Homo sapiens: one gene and its partner. The protein of the gene in region 1 interacts with the protein of each later gene in a biochemical or structural test. Each region holds a gene or a part of one and is shown on either strand. Other genes may lie near its edges.

Region 1 (6,874 bases):
TGGCCACCAAATCAGAATGGAGGGGTACATTGTGCTGGGCATTGTGCCAAATTAGTTGCATCATGAGGTGATGCTGAACTCTTTATTTCTTCTCTCTTCATTCCCCTCATCCCTCTTTCCCTGTGGATCCTGTCCTTCTTCCATCCCAGTGGATGCCTCTTTCTGTCCTTGCTCTGTCCCGTGTTAAGGGGCCTCTCCAAAGTGGATCCCTTCTTCCCGAGGACCCCTCTCTTTGTCCTCATTCCTTGGGATGGCACAGAGGCCTCTCTCTGGCTCTTGGTGTGTGCTTCCTGTGCCTCCCTGCAACCTGTTTCCCAGTCCTCTCAGCGTCCAAACCCAGCTCTGTTTTCTTTACAGGGTAATCCTTTTGCCTGAATAACTGGCGGCTGGCTGTGGCCAAGCCTGGGGCGGAGCTGACCCCAGTGATGGATGGGGGCCAGCCAGGCCTTGCCCTGTCACACACAAACAGCTCTCCCGAAGCCCCTCCAGGAACGGCGACAGGAAACAAAGAGCAGGGGGCAAAGTTATTTTATTTAGATTTTTTTAAAAACAAACTTTTTTTTTTTTTTTTTTAAGACGGAATCTCGCTCTGTCATCAGGCCGGAGTGCAGTGGCGCGATCTTGGCTCACTGTACTCTCCGCCTCCCAGGTTTAAGCGATTCTCCTGTCTCAGCCTCCCGAGTGGCTGGGACTACAGGCGCCCGCCACCACGCTCAGCTAACTTTTGTGTTTTTAGTAGAGACGGGGTTTCACCATGTTGGCCAGGATGCTCGCCATCTAGTGACCTTGTGATCCCCCCACCTTGGCCTCCCAAAGTGCTGGGATTACAGGCGTGAGCCACCGCACCCGGCCAAACTTTTTTTTTTTTTTTTAAGTTACAAAAACAGACAACCATTTATACTTAGGAAGTTTCACACTCTGGGAATTAGCCATTGTGCCAGGTTTTGTGAGCAAAAGGCTTAAGACACCTCAGCCTGATTAGGTGGTTGTGAGGATCTGGGTCACATTTTCCAGAGCAGCTCTCACCCTGGCCACAGCACCAGCCTCTTCTCTAGAACTTGCTACTCTTAACTCCTTTAATATCAAACTTCTTTACCCTTCAAGGTCCCTTCAGCATGGCCCTTGCCCTCCTGTCTCTTCTTTCTCTGCCTCTCGCTGTAACTCACTGCTCACACTTTTACCTCTGCATCTCCACACACCAAACCTTCCAACAAAACAGGCTTCTCTCTGCAGGCAATTCACATCCCTCACCTCCTTCAAACTCTACCTCGAAACTCCTCTTTTCCAGAAAGCGCTCGGTCTCCCTGGTTCCAGTCCCTCATTACCTGGCTCACGTAATGCTCTGGGTATCAGAGGACCTGGGCTATAGTCCTGGTCCTGCCACCTGTTGGCTGTTATGGTCTTATGTATTTTCTTATTTTTAAATTCTCAGTTATCTTGTTTCAAAGGGATGTGGCTATAATAGAAGCTAAGATGCCCTGAAAAGTAAACATGTTACAAAGTGCAAGCAGGGTTCCCTGTGGGCCCCTGGGCACGGCCCCCCTCAGCTCATACCATTTCCCACCTGCTGTCAACTGCACCATGCATTTGGCTGTTCAGCTGCTGTGGTAAATACCCCACCTTGGCACATGGGTGAGTGCGGTTTGACCACTGGGAATGCAAGATCCCTGAGGGCAGGCCTCAATCTTAATGTTTATTGGGTGAGCTTCTCCAGCCTATAGCACCAGTCAGGGCTGAGCATGAAGCAGGTGCTCAGTCTTAAAGTTAACTGCTTTGATTCAAGTTTCCTTGGACAGATCCACCACCCACTGTGTGATAGCAAAAACACAGCAGCAGGATGGTGGCAGACCCCAAACCTCCTCTTTCATCTTCCTGAATGTGACCTCCAGTGGGAAGGGCCATCCTGGTGGCCTGGCCTGGGGAGTCCTGGCACTCGCCTAGCAGTGCTTGTCAGGTCTCAGGACCACCTGCTAAAGGAGTTTTCTTCACCACTGGAGTAAAAACCCCCCAAGATTTTTGGTAATTTTGGCCTTGCTTGGGTGAGCCAATCAGACAAGAACTACAATTTGGCATGCAAGCCCCAAATAGGAACACTGCCATGTAATAAACCCAGAGTGTGATCAACCCTGGACCATTCAGAGGGTCACACCAAGGACCCCTGCTCTGAAGATCGCAGTCACCAGTGTGGGACCGTCACTCCATGATAGGAAAGACCACTCCCTAGCAGTCGGAGAAAGCCAGAGCTTACCACTGCCCCAACAAATGGCTTTCAGCCCTTTGCGTTTTATTCTGGATGGATTTGAAGCAAAGCATCAGCTTCTCCAGGCTCTTTGGGGTCAGCCAGGGCCAGAAACTTCTCTCCAGGGGGTGCCTGGCCAGGCCTCACAACCCCCCTGAAAGAGCTATTTTCATGAAAAACATCCTAAGCAATTGCAGAAGATAAGAAAATGATCTCACTCCTTCCAAAGAACCCACCACACAAATGTTATTCAGAAAACACATTCTAGATCCTTCTCCCTTCTGCCCAAACATTCCCCACCCCTGGGTGCAGACACCTACATATGACACTTGACAAAACAAATCTTTTTAAAATAACCTGGTCCTTGGAGATCCACTCAGGGCAACACCATTGCAAACACTGTGATGTAACATCAGTCACAGTAGAAATGAAACCAGTTACGAGAGAACTAACTGGAGAGCCACCTTTGCCAGCTCTTGCTCAGATGAACCCAACCCTCGAGTCACTCAAAATGGGTTCAGCTCAGCCAGACCCATCTATGGGATTGGAAACTGCACTCCAGGGAGACCCCTGGCCCTGGCTGACCCCAAAGAGCCTGGAGAAGCTGGTGCTTTGCTTCAAATCCATCCAGAATAAAATGCAGAATAAATAAACATGTGCTTCCAGCTTGTGTTGCTGGGAGTTCCTGCGTGTGTGGATGTGGTCTTCATGGAACTCCTTGGAATTCTCAGAGGGAACCTTGTTCTGGTCATCCAAAGGCTCTGCCTACCCCTCTGCCCTCTCTGAAATCACCCCTGGTCACATTGAGGCATTCAGTGAGGGGGAGATGGGTCAAGAGGGGACAAGACAACTCTTGTTGATGGCTGAAGACCTTGGTGGGAATCCCAGATGCAGCCCACTCTTTGCTGGGTGGACCCCCTTCCTGGTGAGAATAGGATCCTGTGTATATATCTTTGGTTTCAAGCAAAAGGAGGCTTAGGGTCTTATGCCTTTGGAAGAGTGGCTTAGAGGAGTCAGGGAAATTGACAGAGTCCTGGATAAGGGGTGTCCATGCAATGCTCTTCAATCCTGGAGATACCTGGAAGCCAGAGTTCCTTCCCTTAACGTAGTCCTTGCAGGAAGAGTGACCTTCAAGGCCTCAGCACCCAGGGCTGAGGTCCAGCTGCCACAGCATGTCCTGCAGAGACCCCTGCAGCCTGCTCAGGGCCACCACCTCTGTGGAGTAGCCTGAAGCTTCCAGGACACCCCCCAGGCTGTCCAAGGTCTCCAGGCCACTGGCCCAGGGCAAGTGGCAGCTCTTAGAGAAGGCCAGCACGTGAAGAAGATCCCGGAGGTTCTCCAGGTCGTTGGATATTTGGATCACGTTTCTGGAAGGCATACTGGTGAGGATCTGTTGGTAGACTGCCAGTGTCTGGTCCATCTTGGATAAGGTCAGGATGGGGTGGAGCCCAGGAATGAAGTCCAAACCGGTGACTTTCTGTTTGGAGGAGACTGACTGCTATGCAGGAGGAAGAGGGAGAACAAGTGCTCAGCATGTGGGAGGAATCGCTCTCAGAGCCCTCTGCCTTCCCCGTGGGCATGGAGGGTCATTCTCTGGGCTGCCTCCTTCCACCCTCCCTCACCACTTTGGCTCAGGCCCTTGTATCCTGCACCCAGGTGACTGCCAAGCCTCTAAGCTGGTCTCCGAGATTCCTGCTTTTCCCACACCATCCTTCCCTCCACTTCCAGGCCAACTTTCCTAGGTCATTCCTTTCTCTACATGGCCTCTGCTGAAGAACCAGCCATGGTTTCATATGTTTTATTTAGTGGAGTCTGTTCCCCAGGCATCTGAGGTCCTCCATAAGCACCCCCACCCCCAGCCTTCCCTAGTCCCTTCTACCCCCAGCCGAGTCCTCCCTCCCAGTCAGCTTTTCCAGGCAGTCCCTCCTCCTTAGAGATCAAGGCCGTACCCTCAGTGAGGCCCCCCAACCCTGCTCCAGTGACTCCAGTTCCGGGAGGCTCTCCCCATCCATCTGCCCACAGCACTGAGGCTGACACCTCCGTGGTTACTACCCGGGGCTCCCGTGATATTGTGTATTACACCACCCAAGGTGGGGCACTCGGGATCTATCACGTGCAGTCTTGCTGAGTGGCTAATATGCCCAGCTAATTTTTTTTTATTATTTTTAAAGGAGACAAGAGTTTTTATCTATAAAATGCCCAAGACTCTATCTAGTTCTGAGCCATCTTTGCTTCCAGACACCTAACTTCTCCCTAACTGCCCAAGACTACCATAAGACACCCACAATGACCAGGAGACGTGGAAGTCTCCAGAGAGCTCCATGCAGGGGGTAAGGAGGATTCAATTGCTTTAGCTAATTTAGGCCTCATAACAACCTTGTGAATAGTGTGTGATATCCCCATTATCCAGATGATGAAAACAAGGCTTAAAGACAGTAAGGAACTTGCTGAAGATCTCACAGACATCAGAAGTGTGAAGATTCAAACTTAATCTTCCTAATTTCAAATACAGACCTCATCAGGAAAATGGCTGAAGGTCTAGGCCTGCTGGACCCCAGAGAAAAGACCAGGGTGGGCACTGACTGCTATTTGCAAATCAGTAGAGGGTTGAATGTGAAAAAGGGTAGACTCGCTCTTTTGGGTATCTTTGAGCGGCAGGGCCAGAGATCAGCTGGAACTACAAGAACCCTAATGACAAGCACATCTAGAGATGGGATAGAGGCCCTGAGGAGATGCTTCTGGGGGTCTTGTTCCTGCCAATGGGACACAAGGAACTTCACAGCTCCCTCTGGTCGTAGGCACTAAGATTCAAGGAAGTGAAGTCAGGGAGGAAGGCGAGCGCAGAAGGTGGGGACAGAGGGGACAGGAAGGAAAGAGACAGTGGCTGTGCCTGCATGTGGCTCAGCTAATCGCTGAGGCCTGGGTTTCCCCTTGGTAGGTTGAAAATAAGCACGTGAGGCCTCATGAGAATCCTATGATTTTTTTCTTATCTTTAATTTTTATTTTTTTAAAAATTAGAGAGAGAGGTCTTGCCATGTTGCCCAGGCTGGTCTTGAACTCCTGGCCTCAACTGATCCTCCTACCTTGGCCTCCTAAAGCAATGGGCTTACAGATGTGACCCATCATGCCTGATCAAATCCTATGACTTTTATTTATTTATTTATTTATTTTGAGACAAGGTCTCACTCTGTCACCCAGGCTGGAGCACGGTGGCATGATCAGGGCCCACTGCAGCCTCAACCTCCCAGGCTCAGGTGATCCTTCCATCTCAGCCTCCCCTAGCTGGGACCACAGGTACACACCACCATGCCCAGCTAACATTTTTTATTATTTTTGTAGAGATGGGGTCTCCCTATGCTGCCCAGGCTGGTCTCGAACTCTTGGGCTCGAATGATCCTCCTGCTTTGGCCTCCCAAAGTGCTGGGATGACAGGTACAAGCCACCACACCCAGCCCAAATCCTATGATTTTTAAATGGAAACATGTAGCAAAATCAAATGTTCTTGGAGTGGTTTAGAATTAGAACCACTAACCCCTGGAATCTCAGCAGGCAGAGGGGCCAAAAGAAACAACCAGAAAGAGTGGAGCCCTGTGCTTTCAAATCCTTCTCAGCTTCCAGTAGGTGCCTGGCATTCAGGAGGCGTTCAATAAATGTTTCTTGGACTATCTGGGTCCAGTGCCACTAGGAGCCAGTGCTGGGCTGGCTGCAGTTCTACTTTGTCCCCGCATACTCTCCTTACCGTGTGTGAAATGTCATTGATCCTGGTGACAATTGTCTTGATGAGGGTTTTGGTGTCATCTTGGACTTTTTGGATGGGCACAGCTTGGACATAGAAAAGATAGGGCCAAAGCCACAAGAATCCGCACAGGGTTCCCCAATGCATTTTCCTTCCCAGGATGGGCTTCTTGGGCCTGAAAACAGAAGGAACCACACACTGCAAGGAGCCGGTATCTCAGAATACACCCATCTTCACATTACCAACCACATTACCAGACGGGGATGAAAATCAGCTTTGCTTTCTGCTCTGGCTACCATCCCCTCAAAGTCAAAGACAATTCATGATCTACATATGTATTAATGAAATGCATCCCCTTAGAAAGAGGATTATTGTCTGGTCAATAAAACCACCATGAGGTATCCTGTAGACCACAGAGCTGTGAGGCCAGGGTGTGATCAAATGGACATGGTAGGGATGATGTAGACTTCATTGCATGCTCGAGGGAAAGATAACAGACTTTTAAGGTCTGGTTTGAACCCAGTCATTTACTCACTGCATAATTTTAAACATATCACATAACCACAAAATACTCCACCTTCATCCCTGTAATATATCTATCTCTAGGCTTTTATGAGGATCAAATTATCTGATGCACGTGAAAGGGCTTAAAGGTGTTGTGAAATGTGCTCTATCATTACCCTATCATTAGCGATTATGCTACTCACCCATCCTCTGCATTTCTCCCTCACACCAGCCTGCTGATACTCTGTGAGGGCCTTTACCACTTGCTTCCTTACGTCCTTTCTCTCCCACCCACTGGGAGCCTGAATCCCACTAGCACTTACTGACCTTCTAAATAATATGTCAGACGCAGTGCTCAGCACCGAGGATGCAATGGTGAACAACAGATGCTCTCT
Region 2 (7,706 bases), on another chromosome or scaffold:
CTGTTGTCCTTATAAAAAGGGGAAAATGTGGGTCGGGTGCAGTGGTTCACACCTGTAATCCCATCATTTTGGGAGGCCAAGGCTAGCAGATCACCAGGTCAGGAGATCGAGACCATCCTGGCCAACATGGTGAAACCCTGTCTCTACTCAAAATATAAAAATTAGCTGGGCATGGTGGTGGGCGCCTGTAGTGCCAGCTACTCGGGAGGCTGAGGCAGGAGAATCTCTTGAACCCGGGAGGTGGAGGTTGCATATGTCAGATTACCATGTTGCAGTGAGCCAAGATCGCACCATTGCATTCCAGCCTGGCAACAGAGTGAGACCCTCTCTCAAAAAAAAAAAAAAAAAGGGAAAATGTGGACACAGACGCACATGTGGACACAGACACCACCATGTGAAGATTAAGTCAGAGGTCGAGGCAATGCTTCTTTAAGCCTAGGAACGCCAAAGACTCCCAGGAAACCACCAGAAGCCAGGGAAGGAGCATGGAAGAGATTCTCTCACAGCCTCAAAAGGAACCAACTCTAACACCATACATGATCTTGGACTTCTGACCTTGAGAACCGTGAGACAATAAATCCCTATTGTTTAAGTCGTGCACTTTGAATTACTTTGTTATGGCAGCCCTAGCAAACTCATACAAGGACCCAGGCTTCTCTTCCCCCAATTGTCACCTCTTAGCAGACTCCTGACCTGGCAGCAGCTGGGACAGAGCTGCTCTGGGATGTTCTGGGCCTCAAAGCTGAGCCTGAGACTTGAGCTGAATCCCTGGCAGGGGCTCAGGGAGCTGTTGACCAAGGGTCCGGCTGGCTGGGGGTGACTGTGAAGGAGCCATGGCTGCTGTTCCCATCCCTCCAGAATCTCCTCCCCAAGCTGCCAGTGCAGGGAGGAGCCACTGCAGTGTGGACTCTAAGCCTCCCAGAGGTAGGAGGGTCCCAGCAGTTGTGAGGGGTCTGGGGAGGGAGGACAGGACTTAGCAGGGGCCTCTTCTCTGAATACTATGGAGCTCTCGCCCAGCTGCCCACACTCTCGCGCACCTCCCCCCACACTCACAATGCACAAAGAGACTCAGAGAGATTTGCAGGGAGCCCAGAGGATGCTGAGCACGGCAGGTGAAATCTCCTTCTTCTGCAGACCCTACTTGAGGCAGCTCCAGGACCCCGGTATTGGAGATGGGGGTGGCGTTCAGGGCGGGGAAGCCCTGGAACCAGCTCAGGTGTGCAGGGGGGTTGCCGTCAGCATCACAGAGCAGCCGCAGAGCCTGGCCCTCCAGGACAGGGAGGGACGAGGTGTTTTGCAGGATTTTGAAGGCTTTGGGGAGAGAGGTGTAGAGAGTTAGAGATGGGGTATAGGGGCAAAGCACTGGTGTCCCTCTCCTCCTGTGGGGTCCACACTAGCTCTGAGGAGGAGACTAGTAAAGTGGGGGCCTCAGGTCTTCAGAAAAGCCCAGACCATTTCCCTGGAGCTGCCCAGGCTGTCCTGCAGAGAGTGGAGCAAGGGCTGCGGACAGCGTCGTGGCAGACAAGTGCCATTCCTGGACCATGGAGACGCCTGAGGCAGTAGGAAAACAAGCAAGAGAGAAGAGGGAGTGCGAGGGGTGTGGCAGCTCCTGCCGAAGAGGCGACAAAGGCTGGGGGTGAGCAAAGATTCAGTCCAGGTCTTTGAAGTCTATGGAGGCCTTAGTCCTGGCTTCTCATATTGATCCCCGTTAGTCCCCACTCTGCTTCCATCTGGCCCTGGAGAGAACAGGACTGGCTGGTTCCTACCTGCGCTGTTTCCTTGGAAGATGCTGATGGCCACTTTCTGTGGAGCATCTGGGGTGGAAAGAGGTGGCCGCCTCAACATCCCTGAGGAGGGATGGTAGGCATGGGGCCTTCCCCTCAGGAGCCATGAAAACAGGGAAAGGGGCTCTCCTCTTTGGCAACCAGGTCCCCAACTTTAAGCTCTGGCTCAGCCCTGCCCTGTCCCCCCACACCCTCAGGGACCCGGGCGTCCTGGCCCAGCACTCACAGGAGACATTGAGCTGGATGGTTCTCTCCATGGTCACACCGGCTCCAGGGAACGTCACCTGACAGGTGAGGTTGGTGCTGTGGTCCTGGGGCCGTGGGGTGATTGTGAGCACCGAGGACTGGGTGGTCCTGGGGCCCAGGGAGGTGGGGGCAGCTGACATCCAGGAGAAGATGGGGGGCGTCCCCTGCTCACAGACCCAGGGCACAGAGCAGGTCAGATTGCTGGGATGGCCAGACTCCAGGGTCCCTGGGATGGAGATGTTGGGCCTGTGGGTCAGGGCTGGTGAGGAGATGGGGACGCAGGATCAGGATGGAGGTCTGAGGTTTCACCCAGGGGGAAGCCCAGTCTCTGGTCCAGCTCCTTCTCTGAGCCCAACATGCTTAATTGTACCCGCCTCCCAAGACGGGGCTCCCGTCCCAGCCCTGCCCTACGGCCCCCATGACCTTCCCCTGTGGCTAGTCCTGGAGCTGGTTCCTTACCCATCACACGCACAGAGAGCTTGGAAGATGTATAACCGTATTTCATCCATTTGGACTTCAACCGAAAGAAGTATGCAGCATTGTCCCTCCTCCGGGCATCTCTGATGCTCAGGGAGCAGTTCTTCCTTCTGGGATCCCAGAGGAGGTGGAATCGGCCCCGGGTCTCCTCCTGCACTTCTTCGTCTGGGTCGTTTGTGGCCACTGGAACATCAGCCCCTTCCAGGAACCAGTAGCCATAACCATAGTACGAGGCTGGAAGGGTAGTGGGCAATCTGCAGGGTACGAGGACGCACAGACCCTCCTGCACCGTCAGTGACTCTGGCCCCTCCAGCTGGAATCTCCGCTCCTGAGCCAGGGCCCCTATGGAGACATGAGGGTCAGCTCGGCCCAGCCCCACGGCACCTCTCCCCTGGCCCACTCACCTGCCCACAGCAGGGGCAGCAGCAGCGGTAGCATCTCTGAGGCGGAGGCTTCCTGGGCTCCCTGCATGAGCAGAGAAGGGGAAGGGAGTGGAGGGGAAGGACTGCGGGGAGGAACGGGTGGCTGGGGAGGAGCGCGTGATCTCGGCTGTTCACAGAAGAGGAACTGCGAAGCCACAAGCCCTCGGAGCTCCACTCCCTCTGCACAGAGCAGACGGAAACTTTGAGACCCAGAGACCTGCCCAAAGAAGAGCAGAGGAGAAGAGACTGTGTCCCGCCTCCCACCTCGGGGCTTCCTGTGAGCAACAGAGCCCGGACCAGGGCCTCCCGGGGCATCTGAGGAATGCGAAACCTGTGTCCAAGGCCCTGCCCACCTGAGGTGCTTTTCTGTGCACCACTGTTTACACCTGGGAGCTGGTCACTCCTGGCCCCAGAGAGTCACAGCCTCATCCCACGCCATGAGAAAGTCAGTCCTGCAGGATATAGGATTCTGTAGGGTCTGTGGGAGTGTCTGGGACAGTGAAAGGAAGAAGGGTCCCAGGTGCAGTGTGGGTGATAGCCACTCATTCATTCACTCATTCATTCATTCATTCATTCATTCACCAAAGACATAGTGAGCATCTGTATGTAGGTCGGGCTGGAGAAGAGATGCCAGGGACCTGGTCCCTACCCTTGAGATGATCCCCATCCATAGCTTCCCATCCTCAGCACACACCCTCACTATCTAGCTTTAGAGCTGTGGACACTGGTGAGTTTGCCAAGTGACACAGTAGAATGCCAGATATTTTTTAAAACATGAGTATGGAGGTTTTTCCTTGACAGCTAGTACGCTGATTTACAAAATTTCAATGACATCTCCAAAATAAGAACCATGCAACATCTTCATGTAAATCAAAAAGGACACATATTTTATGAACTGCAGTGCAGAAGAAACTTCTTTTGAATTAATGTTGCCACTCAGTGCAGTGTGGACTGGAGAGATTTTTTTTTAGGTCCTCATCATAGAGATTAGCAATTTCTTTCCTGTGAAAAATCTGCTTCTCACAGTTAAATGTGGCACAAAAGACATATTTCTGGACAACGTGAGCAGAATATCCTGACAAAATTAAAATTTTTAGGTCTAGCTCACATGGTTTTCTATTTTCCTCTGTGCAGTATGCATCTGGCAAATCTCTAATACCTATGAGGTATTAGAATTTGCCACCATATATTTGTAAATTTTTTTATTTCTACAAACTTAAGGAGTAGATGTAAAATTTTTTTGCATGTATATAATGCGTAATGATTATGTCAGGATATTTAGAGTGTCCGTCACGTGAGTGCAATACATTCTTGTTAACTAAAATCACACTATTCTGCTCTCTAACGCTGAATTTATTCCTTTTAACTGTATGTTTGTAGCACTTCACTCACTTCTCTTCATCTTCTGTCCTCCCCCATCTGACCCTTTCCAGTCTCTGTTGTCTATCTTTCTACTGTCCACCTCCATGTGATAATATTTTTTTAGCTCCCACATGTAAGTGAGAACATGCAACATTTGTCTTTTTGTGTCTGACTTATTTCAATTTAGATAATGAATTCTAGTCCCATCCATGTTGCTGCAAATGACACGATTTCATTCTTTTTTATGGCCAAATAGCATGTATACTATATTTTCTTTATCCATTCATCTGTTAATTGACACTTAGGTTGGTTCCATATCTCTGATATTGTGAATAGTGCAGCAAAAATCATGTGAATGCAGGTATCTCTTTGATGTATTTCTTTCTTTCCCTTCGGGTAGATACCCAGTAGTGGGATTGCTTGAGTGATCGAATAGTAATTCTATTTTTAGTTCCTGAGAAATGTCCATAGTGTTTTCAAAAGTGGCTGTACTAGTTTAAATTCCCACCAACAGTACAGAAGAGTTATCTTTCTCCTCATCCTTGCCAAAATCTGTTATTTTTTGTTTTTTTAGTAATAGTCATTCTGACTGGGTAAGACGGTATCTCATTTTGGTTTAGATGTGCACTTCTCTGATGATTAGTGACGCTGACCATTTTGTCGTATTGGCTGTTCTTATGTATTCTTTGAGAACTGTCTATTCCTGTCCTTTGCCCACTTTTTACTTGGATTATTTGCTTTTTCCTGTTGAGTTGTTTGAGTTCCTTGTATAGTCTGGATATTAGTCTCCTGTCAGAAGAATAGTTTGCGAATATTTTCTCCAATTCAACAGGTTGTTTCTTCACTCTAATTATTTCTTTTCCTGGCAGAAGCTTTTTGTTTATTAAGTCCCATTTGTTTATTTTTGTTTTTGTTGCCTGTGCTTTTCAGAACTTAGTCATAATTTCTGACTCTTCTGACCAATGTTCAAAAGAGTTTTCCCTAGGTTTTCTTGTAGCTGTTTTTTTTTTTTATAGTTTTGGGTCTTACATTTAAGTGTATGATTCATTTTGAGTTTTTTTTTAATATGGTGAGAGAGAAGAATCCAGTTTCATTCTTTTGTGTGTGGGTATACAATTTTCCCAGCACCATTTATTGAAGAAGGTGTCCTTTCCTCAATATAAGTTCTTGTCAGTTTTGTTGACAATCAATTGGCTGTATACATGTGGCCTTATTTCTGGGTTATATTCCATTGGTCTATGTATCTATTTCTATACCAATATCATGCTGTTTTGGTTATTATAGCCTTGTAATATACTTTGAAGTCAGGTAAAGTGATACCACCAGCTTTGTTCTTTTTTCTCCGGATAGCTTTGGCTATTCAGGTTCTTTTTGGATCCATATGAATTTTATAATTGTTTTTTACAATTCTGTGAAGACTGACATTGGTATTTTCATATGGATTACATTAAATCTTTAGATTGCTATAGACCAGTGTGGGCTTCTTAACTATCTTAATTCTTCCAGTCATGAGTATGGGATGTTTTTCCATTTGTTTGTGTCATCTTCAATTTCTTTCATCAGTGTTTTTTAGTTTTTCCTGTATAGATTTTCACCTGGTAGGTCATTAAGAGCATATTGTTTAATTTCCATACATTTGTCTTGTTTCCAGAGTTCCTCTTGGTGCTGACTTGTTGTTTTGTTCCATTGTGGTCTGAGTATACATTGAGTAAATATTGATTTTTTTTTTAATTTATAGAGACTTATTTCGTAGCCGAATATATGGTGTATCCTGGAGAATGTTTCATGTACTGATGAAAAGAATATGTATTCTGCAGTTGTTGGGTAGAAGTTCTGTAAAAGTCTGTTAGTTCCATTTGGTCTATAGTGTAGTTTAAATGTGATGTTTGTTTGTTGATTTTCTGTCTAAGTGATCTGTCTTACTGAGAATAGGGTGGTGAAGCTTCCCACCATTATTGTATTGCATTCTATCTCTCTCTTTAGATCTAGTAATATTTGCTTTATAGATATGGCTGCTCCATTGCTGGGTGCATATATATTTAGAATTGTTATATCCTCTTGCTGGGTTGATCCCTTCATCATTATATAATGACCTTCTTTGTCTTTTTCTACTGCTCTTGACCTAAGGTCTGTTTTATCTAAGTATAGTTACTGCTGCTTACTATTGGTTTCCATTTGTGTGGAATATCTTTCTCCATCCTTTTACTTTTGGTCTATATGTGTCTTTTCTTAAGGTGTGTTTCTTTAAGCTGCACACTGTTGAGTCATTTTTAAAATCCATTCAGCCATTCTATATCTTTTAAGAGGATACTTTAATCCATTTACATACATGGTTATTATTGATTTGTGAGGCTTTCTTTCTGTCAGGTTATTAAACATTTTCTTGTTTTAAACATTCGTTGTTTCTTTCCTTTTATCTTATTGTTTGTCCTTGTGATTTGGTGGATTTCTGTAGTGGTACCATTTGAGTCCTTTCTAGTTCTCATTTGCATGATTGCTTTACCAGTGAATTTTTTACTTTCATATGTTTTCGTGATGATAAAATCATCCTTTTGCTTCCAGGTTTAGGACTCCTTTGAGTATTTTTTCCAAGGCTGGTCTAGTGGTAATAAATTTCATCAGCATTTGTTTGTCTTGGGATGAATCTATTTCTCTTTTATTTATGAAGAATAGTTTCTTTGCATGTTCTGTGGTGGCAGTTATTTTTTCTTTTAGCACTTAGAATATATCAGTTCCTTCTTTTCTGGTGTGTAAGGTTTCTACTGAGAAATCTGCTCTTAGTCAAATGGAATTTCCTTTAGAGGTAGCTAGATGCTTTTCTCTTGCTATTTGTAGAATTTGCTCTTTAACTTTGACTTCACACAGTCTGACTATAATGTGCCAAGGAGAAGACCTTTTGCATTGGGGATCTGCCCGGGGATCATTGGGCCTTCTGTATCTCTATACCTAAATCTTTTGTTAGACTTGGGATGTTTTCATGTATTATTTTGCTGAGTAGGTTTTCCAATATTTCTTTGTTTTTTCACCCTTAGAGATACCAGTAATTTATAAATTCCATTGCTTTTTGTTGTCCTAAATGTTATTAAGGCTATGCTCATTATTTTTTGTACTTTTCCCTTTATTTTTGTCTGACTAGATTATTTCAAAAAACCTGTCTTCAAGTTCCAAGATTCTTCTGCCAGATTTAGTCTATTATTGAACTTTTCAAATGTGTTTTGCATTTCCTTCAATTAACTATTCAGTTCCAGAATTTATATTTGGTTATTTTAAAAAATATATATCTCTTTGATCATTTTCTCATTTATACCCTGAATTGTTTTTCTGGTTTCCATAGTATTGATTTTCAGAATTCTGTTGTATCTCACTGAGCTTCTTTAACATCAATATTTTGAATTCTTTGTCTGGAATTTCAAAA

What was found.
Region 2: the proteins of LEP (region 1) and SIGLEC6 interact in a biophysical measurement, tested with the Homo sapiens proteins (one study listed by IntAct).

Annotation. Positions count from the first base shown.
Region 1 is NC_000007.14:128,251,267-128,258,140, reverse strand, and holds the end of LEP (leptin precursor), read right to left. Parts: intron 6,151-6,874; 5' UTR 6,123-6,150; coding exon 5,979-6,122; intron 3,738-5,978; coding exon 3,378-3,737; 3' UTR 512-3,377; downstream 1-511. UniProt on the Homo sapiens protein: Key player in the regulation of energy balance and body weight control. Once released into the circulation, has central and peripheral effects by binding LEPR, found in many tissues, which results in the activation of several major signaling pathways.
Region 2 is NC_000019.10:51,528,671-51,536,376, forward strand, and holds the start of SIGLEC6 (sialic acid-binding Ig-like lectin 6 isoform 1 precursor), read right to left. Parts: upstream 3,001-7,706; 5' UTR 2,979-3,000; coding exon 2,912-2,978; intron 2,850-2,911; coding exon 2,490-2,849; intron 2,290-2,489; coding exon 2,011-2,289; intron 1,848-2,010; coding exon of another isoform or gene 1,815-1,847; coding exon 1,767-1,814; intron 1,312-1,766; coding exon 1,054-1,311; intron 954-1,053; coding exon of another isoform or gene 910-953; exon of another isoform or gene 305-909; intron 1-304. UniProt on the Homo sapiens protein: Putative adhesion molecule that mediates sialic-acid dependent binding to cells. Binds to alpha-2,6-linked sialic acid. The sialic acid recognition site may be masked by cis interactions with sialic acids on the same cell surface.